4 linked regions of the Homo sapiens genome follow. The protein of the gene in region 1 interacts with the protein of each later gene in a biochemical or structural test. Each region holds a gene or a part of one and is shown on either strand. Other genes may lie near its edges.

Region 1 (3,500 bases):
TGTCAGGTATTGTTCTAAGTGCTCAATTTATTTAATTCTCACAGTAACCCTATGAAGTGAACTATTATCTCTACTTTTTGGTGAAGAAATTGAAACACAGAGATACGATAACTTTTAAGTTCATTTAGCCAGCAAGGTGGAAAACTACGAATATGTGGTAAAAAATAATATTGTAGACTATTGGAGAAAGTGGCTTGTTCAATGTATGGTGCTAGGACTATTGGTTATCCATTTTTTAAAAATGTTTTCTGCCTCATAGGCTAAAAAAAATCAAAGGAAATCTAAATGACAAAGAGCAATAAAAATTCTAAAATAGAAGAAAATGTAGAATACTACTTAAAAATATGTATGTACCTAGATTGAAAAGAATCCTCCGTGCATGATACTAAAGAAGTAATAAAGGCGGGTGGGTCACTTGAGGTCAGGAGTTCGAGGCCAGCCTGGCCAACATGGTGAAACCCCGTCTCTACTAAAAATACAAAAATTAGCCGGGCATGGTGGCGCGTGCCTATAATCCCAGCTACTTGGGAAGCTAAGGAAGGAGAATTGCTTGAACCTGGAAGGCGGAGGTTGCATTGAGCTGAGATCGGGGCCACTGCACTACAGCCTGGGCGACAAAGTGAGCTTCCGTCTCAAAAACAAAAAGTAATGAAGGAAAAAACGTGGCCGGGCGCGGTGTAATCCCAGCACTTTGTGAGGCCAGGAGGGGCGGATCACGACGTCAGGAGTTCAAGACCAGCCTGACCAACATGGTGAAACCCCGTCTCTACTAAAAATACAAAAAAAAAAAAAAAAAAATAGCCGGGCCTGGTGGCGAGCACCTGTAATCCCCCCTAATGGGAAGGCTGAGGCAGGAGAAACGCTTGAACCCGGGAGTCAGAGGTTGCATTGAGCCAAGATCGCACCACTGCACTCCATCCTGGGCGACAGAGCGAGACGCTGTCTCAAATAAATAAATAAAGGAAAAAAACGTTTTTTATATGTGTGATAAACGTCTGCGTTCGCAGTCAGAATTTTGTTTACTGGTGTATTTGATTTAAGATTATTAGAAAGTTGAAAAACAAGAATTAGGGTGGTTCTCTGCGTCACCAAAGAATTGTTTAAATGTGTAAGAAAGTGGTATGAATCATTGTTAAGAAACGATTTCATTGGTTGAATCACAGAAAAGTGGCTGAAGGAAGTTTCAGTGGCTTCTGTGTTTTCAAGCTGTTTTCCTTTGGAGGAAGCAATAAAATTTAATTTAAGATTGTGCTATTGTATATGCTTATTAGATTTTGCTGAATACTTAAATGTTTTTGTTAAGTCTCGGGAATAGTAGTATTGCCCGCTGTGGCTATCTGAAATTATAATGTAAGTATGAAAATGATTTATGTCATTTTTTACTGTTACACTGATTTACATGATACCCAGGAATTGATTTATTGTATCAAGTGGAGCACAGTGGGCTTTTTTTTTTTTAATTAAGTTCTGGGATCCATGTGCAGAATGTGCACATTTGTTACATAGGTATACGTGTGCCATGGTGGTTTGCTGCACCTATGAACCCATCATCTAAGTTTTAAGCCCCACATGCATTAGGTATTTTTCCTAAATGCTTTCCCTCCCTTTCCCCCCACCACCAACCCGGGTAACAGGCCCCAGGTCCTGGTGTGTGATGTTCCCCTCCCTGTGTCCATGTGTTCTCATTGTTCAACTCCCACTTATGAGTGAGAACATGTGGTGTTTGGTTTTCTGTTCTGGTGTTAGTTTGCTGAGGATGATAGCTTCCAGCTTCGTCCGTGTCCCTGCAAAGGACATGAACTCATTCTTTTTTATGGCTGCATAGTATACCATGGTGTATATATGTACCACATTTTCTTTATCCAATCTGTCATTGGTGGGCATTTGGGTTGGTTCCATGTCTTTGCTATTGTAAATAGTGCTGCAGTAAACATATGTGTGCATGTGTCTTTATAGGAGAATGATTTATATTCCTTTGAGTATATACCCAGTAATGGGATTACTGGGTCAAATGGTATTTCTGGTTCTAGGTCCTTGAGGAATTGCCATACTATCTTCCACAATGGTTGAACTAATTTACATTCCCACCAACAGTGTAAAAGCGTTCCTATTTCTCCACAGCCTCGGCAGCATCTGTTGTTTCCTGACTTTCTAATAATCACCATTCTGACGGGTGTAAGATGGTATCTCATTGTGGTTTTGATTTGCATTTCTCTAATGATCGGTGATGATGAGCATTTTTTCATATGTTTGTTGGCCGCATAAATACCTCCTTTTTTTTGGCAGCATAAATGTCTTCTTTTGAGAAGTGTCTGTTCATATTCTTTGCCCAGTTTTTGATACGGATATTTGTTTTCTTGTAAATTAGTTTCACTTCCATGTGGATTCTGGATATTAGACCTTTGTCAGATCAGTAGATGGCAAAAGTTTTTCTCCCATTCTGTAGGTTGCCTGTTCACTCTGATAGTTTCTTTTGCTGTGCAGAAGCTCTTTAGTTTAATTAGATCCCATTTGTCAATTTTAGCTTTTGTTGCAATTGCTTTTGGTGTTTTCATCATGAAGTCTTTGCCCATGCCTATGTCCTGAATGGTATTGCCTAGGTTTTCTTTTAGGGTTTTTATGGTTTTGGGTTTTACATTGAAGTCTTTAATCCATCTTGAGTTAATTTGTGTATACAGTGGGCTTTTCTTGATATCTTAACGTTTTTGAAACCTTAAGAGCTGCAGAAAATGGCCAAGCTAATGAACAAAAATTAATGACAAGAGTCAGTCATTACATATAGGGATTGTTTCTTGAGTGAGTGATGCAGTGTTTTAATTATGATAGTTACTGATCAATGCATACTTGCTTCATACTGTTTTAAAAGTGAAAAACTCACTGTAGTTTGTGAGAAGTCACTGAAGTTTGGCTGCCAACTTTTAATGATCCTCACTGTAGCAATAATTTTTGTGTGTGTTTGGCATTTTAGACCATCATGGTTAAAGCTTTAATTTATATAGTTGGCTGATAATCCTAACTACATTTTACAACTCTTACATTTGTTTCAGGACAGCTTCATAAGATAGTTATGTTTCAAATTGTGGTGTTCTTCCCCCCCAGGTTATATATTGGCACAAATTACATTATATTATTAGGAAAGACACCAATTTGCCAGACTCAAGCATGTAATCCCTGCACTTTGGGAGGCTGAGGCGGGCATATCACCTGAGGGCGGGACTTCAAGACCAGCACAACCAACACGGCCGAAACCCCGTCTCTACTAAAAATACAAAAATTAGCCGGGTGTGGTAGCACATGCCTAAAATCCCAGCTACTTGGGAGGCTGAGGCAGGAGAATCATTTGAACCCAGGAAGCAGAGTTTGCAGTTGAGCCAAGGTTGCAGTGAGTCGAGATAGCACCACTGCACTCCTGCCTGGGCAACAGAGTGAGAGTCTGTCTCAAAAAAAAAAAAGGAAAGACACCAATAAATAATGAGGTGGAAACCAATCTGTGGCTTCGA
Region 2 (2,749 bases), on another chromosome or scaffold:
TTATGTTCTTACAATCAAGAATTCCTTCACCAGATGCGAGACTACTCAGCAATAAGAAGAAATGAACTATCAATACACACAATTTAGATGAATCTCCAGGGAATTATTCTAAAGTGAAAAAAAATCGCATACTGTATGATTCCATTTATGTAATATTCTTGAAATGATAAAAGTATAGAAGTGGTTGCCCGGGGTTAAGAAGTGTGTGAGGGCAAGAGGGAAGTAGGTATGCCTATAAAAGGGAAACATGAGGGATCTGTATTACGGGTCCTTGTGGTGATAGAACTGTTCAGCATTGTGACCTTATGCATCTCAATGTCCTGGTTGTGATACTGTACTACAGCTTTGCAAGATGTTACCTTTGGAGGGGAAATGGGTAAAGGGTACACGAGCTCTCTCTGCATTATTTTTTACAACTGCATGTGAATCTACAATTGTCTCAAAATTAAAAGTTTAATTTTAAAAAAGATTTCCCACCAGAAACAACGTAGACTTCACACTTTCTTCAAATGCATTCTTTTTATTTGAGAAGGATGATCTCAAGGCAGTGCCCTTTGGGAAAGATGTCTTTCATCATCATGTACATCAGGATCAACCATTACTTTCAGCAAAGTACAAAAATACACACGTCAGTGACTTCCGTACAATAAATACATAATCATGCATCCCACAATAAAAGGCACCGAAAACTGGTCACTTAGTAGTCATAAAAATTACTAGCTACATTAACAAAGCCACCAAAATTATCTGTACAAGGAAATGTAACAATATATTCCAAAGGTGAAAACACATAAAACATCTTTAAAATAGTAGGCAATAAATATCTCAATTGTATATATTTTTAAAATTATGCCATTGTAAACAGCATGTAAACAAACAAAACTCACGTTGTCTTACCATTACTAAAAGTAATTAGAGCCAAAGTTATAACCTCTGCTCTGTCAGGTATATTTCACTGGCAAGTGTGCTAAGCAGTTAAAAGTTTCACTCTTTTCTGCAGCAAACAGAGCCCACTGTGTAATAAATAGATAGATATTATCTGCATCTTTCAGACACAAGTGCTTAGTTTCAAAACAGACTACCAAAATGTAGTAAATTCCTAACTATAAATAATACGGCAAGGCTAAATTTAAAATACCTTTTCCAATGTAAGGGACAAAAGGAACTATACTGTTGTGTTTTCAACATGATAATAAACAAGAGGCAAATGATTTCTGGTTATCTTTATCGAAAGATAAAATGAATGTGCTGAATGTCAGGGTAAAGTGTCCAATCTTTTGAGCCTCCTCCTTTTGTGGACCTTGTACAAAGTCAAACAAAGAGTAAAGCTGTATCACACTAAGAATTTTCTTTTGCTAGAGAACATAGAAATGGATGATACTTAATACTGATGGAAAACAATGACTTCAAAATATGCCTATCAAACTGTGAATACACATACAAGTCGGGTTTTTTTCCACACTTACTGACAATAAAGATACAGTTTTTTCCTTCTCATGAAGGAACCCTATTGCCTAACCATCCATAAATATCTAGAGAATTTTTTAGAACTAAAAATATTTTTGTTTCACCTATGTATTAGTGCCTCATGGCACACAAGTACTAGTAATATTTACTATATGCTTAGATACGTATGCTACCTGTTAAATATTACCGCCTACTCCTCATTCAAAATAATCAAGGAAACATCAACGCACATCTTCAAATGGAGCCTCTGAAGTATACCAGAAAGCATTACTTTTTCCCTTCTACTGTGGGTTTACCATGCACAGCTCTTATATATTTTGGTGTGTGTGTCATCAAAAGGCATATATGCCTTCCCAAAATAAACTTTAAATGTGAGTTCACATTCTACAGATCTATCAGTCACTGGGATCACATGTACGGCTGTGGAAATAGGATTGATGAAATATGTACTTGACAAAACAGTCAAAATTATTGGTGGCTGATACAAAAATGTAAAAATTGTGGACATAAAAATGGGATTACCTCTTTATGATAAAATAATTTGGTTAGTTTTTTTGGGTGGAAGGAGACTCCTCTCTGAAGTAACCTGAAAAACACTCGGTTTATAAAAGTCCTCCTAATACCTTAAACAGACTGTGGAAAAATAACTGTGAAAACAAACTTGGACTCTACCAGATGGGAGCTTTGTCTTATTTTATCTGTATCCCCAGAATCTAATTGAGTGCCAAGTATAGAGCAGGTAGAAAAGTCTATCAAGTGAATGAAGGAACAGGGCATTTCAGTTAATTACAATTATTTTGATTTTTTTTCTTTTTTTTGAGACAGAGTCTCACTCTGTCGCCCAGGCTGGAGTGCAGTGGTGCAATCTCAGCTCACTGCAACCTCCGCCTCCTGGGTTCAAGCAATTCTCCTGCCTCAGCCTCCCGAGTAGCTGGGATTACAGGTGTGCATCACCATGCCTGGCTAGTTTTTGTATTTTTAGCAGAGATGAGGTTTCACCATGTTGACTTGTCTCGAGCTCCTGACCTCAGGTAATCCACCCACTTCGGCCTCCCAAAGTGCTGGGATTACAGGTGTCAGCCACCACACCTGGCCCTGATATTTAATTTTAGAAATTATTAACTTGGAAAAGCTTTCTGTGTTAGCCTTTATGAGTATTTGGTGATATGGTAGAAAGGCTTTATCTAATCCCAAAGAAAAACAGGCCCAGAGGTAATAGTTTTTATTTTTAGTCTTTATATTCTATAGAGGGTGATAAGAGTCACAAGCCTTCTTATGTTTA
Region 3 (3,986 bases), on another chromosome or scaffold:
ATGAATTGTTCTGAGATAGCCTCATCTTTGAATTGAACTAATAACATTATCAGTCTCATAAAAGATTTAATAACAATTCATATAAGCAGTAGAGGTCCTAGCATGTAATACATGCCCCCAGAACATTAGACAATATTATTTATTATTTCTCAGAAGTAGAAATATATATTTAGCTACAGAAAATTTTTCAAACCTGGCTGTTATATACATAATATTTATAACATATAGATTTGCTTGAATTTATAGTACTATCTTAAATTATAAATATATTATCTGCATTGAATATTGGTATAGGGATCCAATGATTATAAGGTATATTGTTGTTAAATAACATAAATAACATAGAGTACTTTATATTTTCAAAAATTAATGCACTGTTTGTCTTTACAAGGCAAATCTTGACATTCTTTCTCAATTTGGAGAATAAAAAATTATCAGGCTTTTCAACATTCTTCTACAAGTTAATAAAACAGAAACAAAAGGAGACTTGTGAAAGAATGTCAAATAATTAGAAAAATGTACAATTTATTAATATAAATGTATAAAGCAAATAGAACACATTCATTTAAGCTAGACAGACGTCGACACAAACTTTCAAATTGGATTGTCAGTTTCATCAAATTTGGAATAAACAGAAAAATACAGTATTTACAGATTTTAGTAAAACTAAACAGAAATGGTACAAGAAGGAAATTTATTTTTCACAGAACAAAAATGACAATTTTGACTCAGGTACCCACATAGGAGCAGGTGAAGTTCTCAAAGGACAACTTTTTTTGTTGTTGTTTTTTTGGTAAGCAAATGAAAACCAAGACATATTTTTCTGCTCTTTTATTTATATTGATGAAACCTCAAAGTCTGTACTCAAATACTTATTAAAATATATCCATACATATATGATTTCTTGTCAAAATGCATCATTCTTCTTCAAATACAAAAACAAAAATATTTTCACTTTCCTAAAACCATCACTTTTTCTTAGATCACACTTTTATCTTTCTTCTGAGTATAGCCCTGGAAAAGCAGTTTGAATGCAAAGCCCCTTGACAAAATATCTGCTTTTTAAAAATGTTAATTTAATACACAAGAAAAAAAAAGCCTCTGGGAGAAGAGGATAAAGAAGTTAGGATTTCTAACTCCTAGGCTAAAAAACAGCATATCAGAAAGCCATTCAATTTCCTTTACAATGCTGATTAAAGCCTTCATTTTAATCTTCATTATAAATGGAGGACATTAATCCCTAAGCTGTTTTTAAACAATTAATAGTAACCTTCTTCAACCCTATCCATGATTTCCCTGAAAAGCAATAGTTGAGTTCTATTTATTCAGTGTAATGGACTGGCATTTCATTTTAAATAAAACCATATAAGCATGTCTCTATGTGAGATATAAATGTTACACTCATCTATGTACATAATGCTATGTCGTGGAGAAATTACAGTAGTAAAATAATGCAGTCTTTAGCAATGTCATTTTGAAGTAAATGATAAAAAGAGTAGATGCTTGAACCACCTTAGAAAACAAATTACTATACTTTCTAGAACAATCAAAGCATTGGGTTTAATATCTCATTCTGCTGAAATAGCTTATAGAATCATAAATAGCTGATGCACAGTTCCTGTAATTAAGATTAGGCAGTTAAGAACAGTAAATCAAAGTTTCTTTGGGGTCCATTTTGAGAAAGTAATATAGATTTTTGTCATTTGCATGGCTTTATAGTAAAGTTAAAAAAACATACACAACTACACATACTGACTTCTGGAGTAGACGCTCGGTGACTTCTTTCCGGTGTGATAACTTTTTTGGGTTGTGCGATGGGAAGGTATCGAGTATCTGTAGCTACTGCTCTTTTCGTTGCAACAAAAAACGCAGCAGAACAGAGCTCCTCCAACAATCAGCACCAGTGCCGTGGTCCATCCTAAGTAGAGAGCTTCTCCAAGCTCACGTTTTTGGGCAACATTCACTATTGAGTTATAGAAATCTCTGATGATGGCATTGGCAACCCAGCTCACAGGGATGAGCACCACCATGCCCGTGATGATGAAGATGATTCCAGCCGTCAGCAGAATGTGAGCCTTCACCTTCTCATTGTCCCCCGTGCACCTGGTGCATTTCATGCCAAGGATGGCCATCATGAAAGCCAAGAAGGACATCACGGAAGCAGCACACATCAGTCCTCTGGCTGCCTGTAGGTCCGGAGAAAGAGCCAGCAGGGAATCATAGATTTTGCACTGCATCCTGATGTTAGCCTGCCTCACGCAATTCATCCACAGTCCTTCCCAGAAGTTTTCAAAAACCACGATGTTGTTTTCAATGAAGGCCGACACTCTCCACTGAGGCATGACAGTGACAGCCACTGTGCCCACCATTCCAACACCACCAAGAAACAGCCCAGCGATTTCTAAGGCATGGGTTGCCATTATCCTCTGGGATGAGTTTTAGCCAGCTGGACTCCGGAACTGCTACTTCTGCTTTGAAGCAGGGTTCTCTGTGCCACAGAAGAGAACAGTTTTTCCTGTAGTAATGAACTCGGAACCCAGTGGTTTTTCAAATAAGAGCTGCTTTGCTACTTCTGGCCAGATAGTATCCAGTGCTGGCTGGCTGAGATGGCCCTGCTATTGGCTGCAACAGGTAAACTTACAAATCAGGTGTGGCAACTTTCTCAGCCAATAAAAGGTGGATGGTAATCCAGGTGTGTCTAAACCAACACTTGGGTACTTGGAACAGCTAGACCTGCACATAAACATTCTTTATACTTCTCGGTCTTCCAAGAAGACAGCAGTATGTTTACCTGTAGGCATAGTTATAAGTGGTTGCATAAGCATCAAGAAATGAGCCGATCCCTTGTAATGTGAAAGGTGCACCTTGTACAGGCAATTCTGAAACTCTTAATAAGAGCTGCTGGGACCAAGGGATAAAATAAATTATCTGCCGAAGAATTCTGCAACGCTGTTGAAATGCCAAAGTGAAACGAGAGTAGGGGATTGAAAGATTGCTTTTACCTGGGAAGCCACATTCTTTGGGACACATGTGATCCAAGTGATTGATTTAATTTTTCTACAACTTCAAAGCAAGCTCTACTGTGGTGAAATCAGGGAACAGATCATGCCAGAGGACAAAATAAGCTAAAGTAATTAAATACACAAGGCTGTCCTTCTCCTTGGCACTGAAAACATATTGGAGTTCTTTAAGCCAGAAAAAATACTCATTGACACTTTTCTGATAATCTTCACTTATAAAAACATTTTTTGCCAAAATAAAAATCACCAGATGATTATCTTATGTATCCAGCACTATAGCATTAAAATAAGCTTATGAGCTTATTTTGTGGTGTTATTCTTGCTGCTTTGAATTCCTGGGCTGAAGGAACTAGAATTCTGAAGATGACACAAGACCCTTGGGCCTATACAAATGGCTGATATTTCAAAATAAGATATTTACAAGACAAGGGAACTATATTTACCAAACTGTATTATATTAGGTATTAACCAAATATGTTTTCCTACCTTTTAATATTATGTCTGCAGTAGGACATAGAAACCCCTAAACGCAAGACAATTTGAACTTTCTTCTCAAAATAATGATGCTCTAACAGTAGTGCTATACTAAGCATAAATGTTTATCTGAGAAAATTCGACTAGCAATTTTCTTCTGGAGATCACCTTAAGCTCTCTGTCTGATCTTTCCAAAGTTTAAGCTGCCACTTCATTTTCTTTTCTTCTTAACATCATAAAAAATGATTTTCTCTTTACAGTTTTACTTTCTCTCTGTTTCATTGGACTACCTTAAATCCAAATATGGGAGAAAATCGTTTCTGCTCACTGATTAAACTTTGAGAGTTTCATGGTTCAAAAAATCTGAGTCATTTGTGGATATTATTAAAACAAAAACTATATGGTAGAAAGGGCAAAAGGAGGATCAAGTAGACTGTCTTCTAAAAAAGAGGCAGGACAGACGCACAGTAGTATGAGTTGTTATAATTTTGT
Region 4 (3,500 bases), on another chromosome or scaffold:
CATTCTTTAAGATTAGTTCATTTACAGCTTTTATGGAAACAATTTTGTCCGACATCTAAATATTGGTAGTTCTCCACTAAGCTGGATGGCTAAGTATCAATACTAATTCCATAACCATTTCTACTTCTGTAAGTAGTCAAACAAATGGAATCCTAGCTCTCTTAATTCCTTTCCAGGGCAAAGTAGAATGTAAAAGACTCCAATTCTTCATCCAAATCTGACAAACCTACTGGTATCTGTTAAATGCCATTTCAGTATGTATTATCAAACTACCAGCACGTCTCTGACCTAGAAGAACTCTGTCAACATAAAAGACATATATATAAATACTTCACAAAATACCATCACATTTGTAGAAAATAAAAAACTTCACAAAAAAGCATCTTCTGTTTATCAAGAATATATACATACATATCCCTGACTATTGCTCACTTAGTCCTATAGAATAGAAACATGCCCCATCCTCCATGACGTTTTTCACATTGCATGCCTATATCAAACATCTCATGTACCCCATAAATATATACACCTACTATGTACCCTCGAAAATTAAAAAGAAACAGTGTTGATGAAAAAATGCCCTAGTGGGGTCCAGAGAACTTCATTTATTAATAGTTTCTTCCCATTCAGTCAGTCCATCCTCCGGATTGACAAGTTTCTCCCTCAACACAAATCTATGTTCCTGGTTAAAATACCATAATCCTCAACACCTTCAGACCAGTTTCCTATACTCAACTGAGTACACGGTGCAATTTCCTATATTACTATATAGTACATCTCTTAAGCACGACATACACATGCTTTTCACTATTAACAATATTCAAAATAGATCATGCCTTCCAACTCTCTATTCACATTCTCTGCTCATGCTGTTCCCCTCCTTTTTGACTTGCTGAATGTACGACTCACCCTTCACACTCAAATCTCTCTAATTCTCCCTGTTCCTCACCTCCAGAATTATTTCTTCAGCTATGTTACCTATTATGTGCTAGACATTATTAGCACAAAGAAAAACAAGACTGTCCTTGCTCCAATGAGAGCTCATCATTCATATTCAAGTTGCGCTGCCGCCAAAACAAAAAACTGTATACACCATTGAAGGAAAACAGTATTACTACATTGTTATACTACGAGTTATACGTCAATGTCCCAACCACAACATGAGCAAGGACTGGGTCTTAGTCACTGTTGTGTATCCGTAAGTCAAAGCACAATAGTGATACACATTAGGTGCTCAAAAATATTTCCTGAATTTAACTGGATTCCTCTCCTCAGTTAATTGTGGTGGTTGGCAGAGTGAAACATAAAACATGATTAAAAACCACCACCACCACCACCACCACCAAAGCTGTGTCTTATACTGAACAATTTCAGAATAAGTTCCTTCCTTGTTGTTACATTTTGTAGTGAATCACCTTACTCTTGTTAACAGCTTCTAGAACGCATCCTTTCCTATTTATATCTTAAAAAAGTTTTATTAAATAAAAACTGATGGGTCTTGCTCCAAACCACCAAAAACACAGACTCAAAACTCATTGGGGATGAATTTGTTAGACCACTATGAGGAATAGGTTGCTCGGAGGCAGAACTGGCTATAGGGAAGCAAGTCATACCATAATTACTGATTTTCACCGTATAGCCCGTTGTAATGGGAGCAACCACAGCAGCTGGTTTTTCATTATCAAGAAGTTCTGCTTTCTTCTGTGATTTCTGTTGCATCTTGTTCTTGATTTCTGTCTCAATCTTGGATTTTTCAGCTGTAAGGGCATCACGTACTCTTTTCCTAGTAGCCTTTTCCAGCAACACCTTTACCTCTTCTAGATCTTTCTGTAGCTGTGTTAAGACAAAAAATAAGTTAGCTATGATAAATAAGGAAATGGCTTGATATTGTGCGTATCACTCATTTCAACTTACTGAAATAAGCACTAAGAATTAAGAAGTTCATCTAAATTTTCTAGGATTGAGTTGCAACTTCAATTCTTCCATCTGGCTTATTAACTGTAATTAACTCAAGCTTCCTTTTTTTCAAAAGGAAAACTTTGAACAATCTTGAACAAACAATAAATAGGTCTTCAAACCTAAATTTTCCAGTTTATGTTTTAAAATATTTACAAGAAACGTCTGCGACCTAAAAAGTAAAACAAAGAACTTTTTTTTGACAAAGGATTCATAGATTTCCTTGTAACATCTAATCCGAGTGTCATTAGATGTTAGACACTTTTAAAATATTTAAGAGATGAGAGAACATGCAGTGACCATGGTAAAATGCTTTTATAGCAAACTTAACTGAGGTAATGAATGCTCCACTTTCTGTCACTGATTGGTCTTCATTATCTTCCCACCTCAAATACCTCACATAAAAAAAGTCTTAATTTTTAAGACAAAAGATAAAAAAAAAAATTTCTGCTTTTGAGGAAAAGTCTTGCTCTGAAGCTGGGTCAGTCTTACACTCAGAAGTGTAGGAGTTGGTTGCACAGAAGGTGACAAAAGACCGAAAATGCAACATACTCTTGGAAATTATCTTTTGAAAAAGCCACCACGTTCTCATTTTCTTCTCTTGCCAATCCATCATCTATTAAAGTCTACTACTTTCTACTTTCTAGAGATAGAGGCAACATTTTATGAAATTCAAGAGTTAAAGACAATGTTAGAAAATTATTGAGCCTAAGTTTTTTTTCCCCCAATTACCCTCTGACATACTGCAAATACACAAGATCTTTCCAAACAGCTGTTTCACTTTTCTTACAATAACTTTACACTCTGGCTTGACACTACCAACTTGACCAAAAAAATCTTGTGTCACAGCTTGATATCAAAAGCTCAATTTAAAAAAGTCTTTTAGTGCTTTATAACTCAGAATATCAGACGCACAACAGAGTTTGAAAGCCTGTTTCTTAATAGTCTTATAAAATGCAATAACAGAACTAATTCTTTTCTTTTACTACAAGTCTTTTGTTATCTCATTTAACTCAGATGCCCTAGTTTTGCCTATCTATAACAGATGACATGGTATAAAAAGTTCAACTCTGGCCAGGTGCAGTGGCTCACACCTGTAATCCCAGTACTTTGGGAGGCCAAAGCGGGTGGATCACTTGAGGTTAGGGGTTCGAGACCAACATGACCAACACGGCGAAAGCCCGTCTCTACTTAAAATTCAAAAATTTGCCGGGTGTGGTGGCACGTGCCTGTAATCCCAGCTACTCGGGAAGCTGAGGCAGAAGAATCGCTTGAACCCGGGAGGCAAAGGTTGCAGTGACCCGAGATCGCGCCATTGCACTCCAGCCCGGGCAACAAGAGCAAAACTCGGTCTCCCAAAAAAAAAAAAAAATCAACTCTGCCCAACCCTCTTGTCCACACTCTCGACCCTTCCAAGAACAGCTCATATTACTATGACAAAAAATCTTGCAAACTCATCTTTTGAGCATAGAACCAAAATGTTTCAGTTCAAAGTAATATTTTTATTGTAATGGTTTCAAAAAAACGCTGATTCTACAACTCCT

What was found.
Region 2: the proteins of TJP1 (region 1) and DGKH interact in a test that uses a peptide from one of them, tested with the Homo sapiens proteins (one large-scale study listed by IntAct).
Region 3: the proteins of TJP1 (region 1) and CLDN8 form a complex in vitro, tested with the Homo sapiens proteins (2 studies listed by BioGRID and IntAct, with this or other methods).
Region 4: the proteins of TJP1 (region 1) and CACYBP interact in a test that uses a peptide from one of them, tested with the Homo sapiens proteins (one large-scale study listed by IntAct).

What each region holds. Positions count from the first base shown.
Region 1 is NC_000015.10:29,815,969-29,819,468, reverse strand, and holds part of TJP1 (tight junction protein 1), read left to right. Parts: intron 1-3,500. UniProt on the Homo sapiens protein: TJP1, TJP2, and TJP3 are closely related scaffolding proteins that link tight junction (TJ) transmembrane proteins such as claudins, junctional adhesion molecules, and occludin to the actin cytoskeleton.
Region 2 is NC_000013.11:42,240,648-42,243,396, reverse strand, and holds the end of DGKH (diacylglycerol kinase eta), read right to left. Parts: 3' UTR 501-2,749; downstream 1-500.
Region 3 is NC_000021.9:30,213,506-30,217,491, forward strand, and holds CLDN8 (claudin-8), read right to left. Parts: upstream 2,593-3,986; 5' UTR 2,421-2,592; coding exon 1,743-2,420; 3' UTR 501-1,742; downstream 1-500.
Region 4 is NC_000001.11:175,002,947-175,006,446, reverse strand, and holds part of CACYBP (calcyclin-binding protein), read right to left. Parts: intron 1,834-3,500; coding exon 1,614-1,833; intron 1-1,613. UniProt on the Homo sapiens protein: May be involved in calcium-dependent ubiquitination and subsequent proteasomal degradation of target proteins. Probably serves as a molecular bridge in ubiquitin E3 complexes. Participates in the ubiquitin-mediated degradation of beta-catenin (CTNNB1).